2 linked regions of the Homo sapiens genome follow. The protein of the gene in region 2 purifies or fractionates together with the protein of the main gene of each other region. This does not show direct contact. Each region holds a gene or a part of one and is shown on either strand. Other genes may lie near its edges.

Region 1 (3,824 bases), on a different chromosome or scaffold from region 2:
CAAATCCTATGAGGAAAAATTTAAAATATTCATGCCTCATATAAAGTGGGCCTTCACAGGAGAAAGATGATTGCTAGGTTTGAAGTTATTATCAAAGAAGTTAAATAAATCAGAACACGGACGTAAATTAATATCTGATGCAAATATAAGCCCCTACAACATGGGATGGGGGTTGGAGAGAAAAAAGGTCACTTATCCAATGGATTTGGGAATTAACCAAAACGGACACACAGCTATGAAGGTATATACAAAGTAAAGGACAATTTTCCTATAAATAGAATTTGTGGATATATGAAGGTGCATATATATTCAACCTTCTATCAAGTTCCAAAAAACTTTTTTAGAAAACTCTGCTGTTTTATGTTTGGATCCTTTATACAGTGTCTTAAATCAGAAGTGCAATTTGGATTTTTTTTGTGAAGCAGAAATAAGGCAGGGGACACACTCAGTCAGGGCAAAGTTGATGTAAACCTGAAACTGCTGTTGACTCAACTGCCCAACCGAAAGGTAAATGCCTGCAACTGCAGGCTGAGCAGGAGGAGCTCACCAGTTTTCGGACATCTTCGCTCCACACCTCTCCTTTTGCAGGCTGCTCTGCATATAATGAAATCCCCAACAGTCTGTTAAGCAAAATATTCAGGCCTTCCATGCATGCTCCAAGAGAGAAAAACGGGCAATATAGGCTGGGCTCAATATTATACCTAAGAGAAGGAAGAGAGGTTCAACAGCATCTTTGTTTATTTCAATTTCTGAAGGTAAATTCAATTAACTTTTCATTTAATACTTAAGATCACTGGAGCTAAAGAAGGATTCAAAACATAAAAGTGTATTTATATCATTTGAGGGGTTTTCAGACAGTTTTCTTCAGAATGACAGTCTGATTATTACTAGTGTTAGTTATAAGTCAGTAATTAAGGTAGATATATCATTCCCTAACCTTTGTCCCTTCCCTGTTATTTACTCTTTCACTAACCCAATTAAGCAGTCTCAACTGCTCACTGTATACATTCCTTATACATACTTACATGCAAAATATGATCAGTTTCAGTTATAATGGTAACTCTTACCTTATGAATTATATTCTAGAAACTTGTGACCTATATACATAAATATTAAATGAATAAAAATCCTGAGGCACATTAAGTGAATTTAAAGTTCTCATCCAGTAAAATATTCATTTATGAAAAAAATGCCTGCAATATAAATAATCAGATCTTATCTGTTTTATAGTTAGATATCTTAAATTAAAGACAACGTAACTAGTAAGGTGAATTATTCTTCACCCAAAAATAACTTTTTCTGTTCTATATATTCCAATATAAACCAAAGCAAATCCAAAATACGTGATTTGAATGTTTACATTTGAATCATTAAGTCAAGCCAAAATATATAGCCATAGCCAAAAATAATGGCTCTAGAATATTGTAGGTTCTCATTATATGTCTACTTTTTAGGATTACCAAAATACACATTTTTTTTTCAATTGGCTTTATTTGTGATTCTAGAACTGCACAACACTTCGTTCCATAAAATGAGTCCCCACAACAAATTTATATATAAAAATATAAAAACATAGTTACTAATAAATGAATGAGTTTAGTAAGTGAACATAAATTGCACAACAAATGAGACTTTGGCTATGGACATCCACAAATTTACACCTTAATTTCTGACTGATTTTTCTTTAAACAGAATCCTAGTGTTGAAAGAGACGTTCATGATCCAGTGCCCTCGCTCCCTGGTTCGTTCACTCAAGCATGCTGTCAGCAAACCTGCGGGGTGCTGGAAGAGAAGAATGAAGAGCCTTTGTGTCTAAGCAGCTGGCACTGAAAGAGGCAGAGAAGTGAACCAACTACACTGTGTCCTGGGCCTGGTGCAGTGGGCACACGGCTGGCGCTCAACAGACAGTGCTGAAGCATGAACGAATGAGCACTGCAAAATGGGAGGGCAAAGGAGAGCATGATGACTTTACTTGTGGAGTGCAGAGTAGCACCAGGGAAAGCTTCTCGGATAGGAATCAAGAAAGAATCGGCCGGGTGCTGTGGCTCACGCCTATAATCCCAGCACTTTGGGAGGCTGAGGTGGGTGGATCATGAGGTCAGGAGTTCAAGACCAGTTTGGCCAACATGGTGAAACCCCGTCTCTACTAAAAGTACAAAAATTAGCCGGGTGTGGTGGCGGGTGCCTGTAATCCCAGCTACTCGGGAGGCTGAGGCAGAGAATTGCTTGAACCCAGGAGGCGGAGGTTGAGTGAGCCACGATTGTGCCACTGCACTCCAGCCTGGGCGACAGAGCAAGACTCTCCATCTCAAAAAAAAAAAAAAAAAAAAAAGGAATCAGACTTTGCAAGGCAGGGCTGGGATGAGGAATGGAAAATGGGAATCATAATAGGAATTCTAGGCAGAAGCGACAGTATAACTAAAGTATGATGGCATAAAATAGCCTGGTAACTTCTAGAAAGGATGTGGTTAAAGATGAAGCAGTTACCAATGCAGGGATAAATGTAGAAAGAATGGGAGCGGAGTCTGGAAAAGGCAGGCAGGGGCCAGAAAACAGAGGGCCTGGTCCACTAAGCTGAGGAACTGGGACCATGCACCATAGGCCATGGCCTCTAAGCTTCCTCACCAATGCACACTAAAATAACTTTTGAGTATTCAACCTTCTATTAGTACACTCATAAAGTATATGCATGTGGTATTGTTTTATCACATTGCAAAAAGAAAAGCAGACATTTTTATAAGTTGAGATAAAGAAAAATAAATATACATAGAATTTCTAATATTTTATGACTACACTCTCAATGAATTGCTTACAGATGCCATTTGGGAGACAGCTTCTGTAGGCCATAGGGGAGCATCTGATGTTTTCTGGAATGCTGCACAGTGGACAGCATGGAGGGTGGAATGCAGGAGGCAGGGAGGGCTGACAGGAGGACAGACTTCCAGGCTTCAGAGGGTGAACTCTGACAGAGGGCAGTGGGGTCAGGGATGAATGTGTTTTTCCTTTGAGATGCAAACGTCTCAGGACTGTGTGAGTGATTGGATTTGGAGGGTGATGAGAAAGACAGAACAATCTAGAATAACACTCAGGTTTCTGGCTTGGACAAATAAGTGGATGGTAGAGTCACTGAATCAGCCGGCACAATGAACACAAAAAAGGAAGAGGGGAATCTGGGTGTGTTTGTGGGAGAAGAGAGGAGGGTGAGGTGCAATGATGGGAGGAGGATGGAGGGCTCACAGAAAATAAACTCCATTTTGGAGGAACCGACTGTGAAGTGCCCATGAGATACCAGACACTCAGGACCCAAAGCTAAGGAGAACAAGGAGACTTCACTGTACAGATATTAGAGCCATAGAGGGAGACAGGGCCATTAGGGAAGGGCGATGCGGGCAGAGAAGGTAAAGGGCAGACCCCTGAACTACCAGAGGGAGGGGTGGGAAGGAAGACACAGAACAGTTCAGAGGTACTGAAGAACTGAGAGAAAGGAGTGCATGGAAAGAGGGGAGAAAATAAACTATAAAAGGAAGTGGTCCAGGCTTGAGGTTTCCACTCCTGCACATGAGGAGGTTGAAAGTCACCACTCCATCCTAACAAGCAGGAAGCTGAACAAGCTGAAAATCAAGAATCTTCTTAGATTCAGCAGAGAATCAAGGCCACAGAGCAAACTGCTGCCCCCAAAACTGGAAAGAAAGGCAGGCAGCCATAGAGAATCACAGCTTACCAGAGCAGAAACCTCCCATAGAACCTACTACCAAGGCAAGAAAGTTTAAACTATAATTGGTTATAAAAAGCAATTCATTTTTTTGTTTCCAGACAATAAAAAC
Region 2 (3,824 bases):
CTGTATTACATAAATGTAGAATTCTAGGTTGACTTAAAAAAAAAAAAGGAGAAGAGTGAAAAGTAATTCCAAGAGTCAGAAATGGTAGAAAAGGAGGCACAGATAAATCTTTGGGGAAAATGTAAAGGATGCAAGAATTCTCACTTATTGGAAAGAAAAATGATCAGGCTAAATGGGAAATGATTTGGGCCAAAAGAAATGACATGGCTTCCAACGTCTAGAAATAAGGACCCCAAAGTTATTATTTTTCCTGTTATGTTTAGTTATGTAATAACTATACATAGTTATGGGGTACAAAGATATTTTTGATACATGTATAAAATGTGTAGTGATCAAATGAGGGTAATTAGGCTACCCATCATCCCAAACATGCATCATTTCTTTGTGCTGGGAGCATTCAAAATCCTCTCTCCTAGCTTTTTGAACATACTCAATATATTATTCTTAACTGTTTTCACTCTACAGTGCTATAGAACACTAGAACTTATTCCATCCATCTAGCTATAATTTTGCATCCATTAACCAACCTCTTTCTATGCTCCTCTCCCCACTACCGTTCCTAGCCTCTAATAGCCACAATTCCACTCCCTACTTCTATGAGCTCTTTTCAGGCTGGAGTGCGGTGGTGTGATCTCAGCCCACTGCAACCTCCGCCTCATGAGTTCAAGCAATTCTTGTGCCTCAGCCTCCCGAGTAGCCGGGACTACAGGCACCTGCCACCATGCCGGCTAATTTTTGTATTTTTAGTAGAGACAGGGTTTTGCCATGTTGGCCAGGCTGACCTTGAACTCCTGGTCTCAAGTGATCCGCCCACCTTGGCCTCCCAAAGCACTGGGATTACAGGCGTGAGCCACCCACCACGCCAGGCCGAGCTCCTTTTTTTTTTTTTTTTTTTTTTTTTTAAGAGACAGGGTCTTACTTTGTTGCCCAGGCTGAAGTTCAGTGAAGCTCATTTTTTTAAGCTCCCACATATGAGTAAGAACATGTGGCATTTATCTTTCCGTGTCTGACTTATTTCACTTAACATAATGTCCTCCAAGTTCATACATGTTGCCACAAATAACAGAATTTCATTCTTTTTTATGGCTGAATAGTATTGCACTGTGTATATATACCACATTTTCTTTATCCATTCATCTCTTGATAGACATTTAGGTTGATTCCATATCTTGGCTATTATGTACAGTGCTGCAATAAACATGGCAGTGCAGATATCTCTTCAATAGACTGATTTCCTTTCCTTTGAAAAAATACCCAGTGGTGAGACTGCTAAATCATATGGTAGTTTTATTTTTAGTTTTTTGAGAGGCCCTTATATTGTTTTCTGCAATGGCTGTACTAATTTATATTCTCACCAATAGTGTTTCAGAGTTCCCTTTTCTCCACATCCTCTCAAGCATTTGTTATCTTTTGTCTTTTTGACAATAGCCATTCTAACTGGGGTAAGATCATATCTCATCATGGTTTTGATTTGAATTATCCTGATGATTAATGATGTTGAGCATTTTTTCATATACTTGCTGCCAATTAGTATGTCTTTTGAGAAATGTCTATTCAGATTCTATGTCCATTTTTTAATTGAATTATTTGTTTTGTTTTGTTTTGTTTTGCTGTTGGGTTATTTGCATTCCCTGTATATTCTGGATATTAATTCCTTGTCAGGTGAATAGTTCACAAATATTTTCTCCCATTCTACATCTTGTCTCTTCTCTCTGTTGATTGCTTCCTTTACTGTCCAGAAGCTTTTTAGCTTTGTATAGTCCCATTTGTCTGTTTTTGGTTTTGTTGCCTGTGTTTTCATATCCTTATCCCTAAAATATTTGCCTAGGGGAGTCTCAGAGCCTACTCTGGCTCAGGATCTGCCCAATTTTATTAAATTTATTATAAAATTTAAAAAATTTTAAAAATTAAAATTAAAATAAAAAATAAAACATTTGCCTTGATCAATGACTTGAAGCATTTACACTATATTTTCTTCGGTTGTTTTATAGTTTTGAGTCTTACATTTAAGTCTATAATCCAGTTCGAGTTGATTTTTGTATATGGTGAGAGAGAGGGCTCTAGTCTTAGTCTACCACATATGATTACCACTTTTCCTCGGACCATGTACTGAAGAGGATATCCTTTCCTCAGTGTATGTTCTTGGCACCTTTGTTGAAAATCTGTTGAATGTAAATGTGTGGGTTTAGTTCTGGGTTATCTATTCTGTTTCATTGGTCTATGCATCTGTTTTTATGCCAATACCATGCTGTTTTGGTTACTATAGCTCTGTAGTATGATTTGAAGTTAGGAAGTGTGGTGTCTCTACTAAAAATACAAAAATTAGCCGGGCATGGTGGTGCATGCCTGTAATCCCAGCTACTAGGGAGGCTAAGGGAGGAGAATCACTTTAATCTGGGAGGTGGAGGTTGCAGTGAACTGAGATCACACCATTGCACTCCAGCCTAGGTGACAAGAGTGAGACTCCCTCTCAAAAAAAAAAAAAAAAGATTTAGTGTTAGTTCTTATGGTAGAATTCAGCAGTAAAACCATCCAATTCTGGGCTTTTTTTATTACTGATTCAATCTCATTACATATTATTGGTCTATTCAGGTTTTCTATCTTGGTAGGTTATGTGTGTCCAGGAATTTATCCATTTCCTCTATGTTTTCCAATTTGTTGGCATATAGTTGTTCATAAGAGTCTTTAATGATCTTTTGTATTTCTGTGGTACAGTTGTAATGTCTCCTTTTTCATTTCTGATTTTATTTATTTGGGTCTTCTCTTTTTTTCTTAATCTAGCTAAAGATTTGTCTATTTTGTTTTTCCTCAAAAAATTTTGTTTTGTTGATCTTTTATAATTTTGCCTCAATTTCATTTATTTCTGCTCTGATCTTTATTATTTCTTTCTTTCTACTAATTTTGGATTTAGTTTGTTCTTGCTTTTCTGGTTCCTTGAGGTGCATTCTTAGATTGTTTATTTGAAATCTTTCTGCTTGTTTGATATAGGTGTTTATGGCTATAAACTTCCCTTCTTAACACTGTGTTTGCTTTATTTCATTGATTTTGATATATTATGCTTCCATTTTCATTATTTTCAAGACATTTTTTGCTTTCCTTCTCAATTTCATCATTGACTCACTGGTCATTCAGGAGCATGTTGTTTAATTTCCATGTATTTGTACAGTTTTCCAAAGTTCCTCTTGTTACTGATTTCTAGTTTTATTCCATTGTGGTCTAAGAACATACCTGGTATGATTTCAATTTTTAAGAATTTGTTGAAATTTGTTTTGTGCCCTAACATATGGTCTATTCTGGAGAATGTGCCATGTGCTGATGAGAAGAAGAATGTGTATTCTGTAGCTGTTGGATAAAATGTTGTGTAAATATCTGCGAGGTCCATTTGGTCCAAAGTGCAGTATAAATCCAATGTTTCTTTGTTAATTTTCTGTCTAGATGATCCGTCTAATGCTGAGGGTAGAGTGTTAAAGTCCTGAACATTGTTGTATTGGAGTCTATCTGTTTACATCTAATGATATTTGCTTTATATATCCAGGTGCACTGATGTTGGGTGCGTATATATTTACAATTGTTATATCCTCTTGCTGAATTGATCTATTTATCATTATATAATGACCTTCTTTGCCTCTTTTTATGTTTTCTGACTTAAAGTCTATTTCATGTGATATAAGCATAGCTATTCCTGCACACTTTTGGTTTCTATTTGTTTGAAATATTATTTTCCATCTCTTCATTTTCTGTGTCTTTTTTTTTTTTTTTTTTTTTGAGACAGCGTCTCACTCTGTCACCAGGCTGGAGTGCAGTGGCACGATCTCAGCTCACTG

Evidence for each region.
Region 1: the proteins of ACSM3 (region 2) and MIPEP purify together in Homo sapiens (affinity purification with mass spectrometry; one large-scale study listed by BioGRID and IntAct). This does not show direct contact.

What each region holds. Positions count from the first base shown.
Region 1 is NC_000013.11:23,840,788-23,844,611, forward strand, and holds part of MIPEP (mitochondrial intermediate peptidase), read right to left. Parts: intron 702-3,824; coding exon 548-701; intron 1-547. UniProt on the Homo sapiens protein: Cleaves proteins, imported into the mitochondrion, to their mature size.
Region 2 is NC_000016.10:20,770,496-20,774,319, forward strand, and holds part of ACSM3 (acyl-coenzyme A synthetase ACSM3, mitochondrial), read left to right. Parts: intron 1-3,824. UniProt on the Homo sapiens protein: Catalyzes the activation of fatty acids by CoA to produce an acyl-CoA, the first step in fatty acid metabolism. Capable of activating medium-chain fatty acids with a preference for isobutyrate among fatty acids with 2-6 carbon atoms.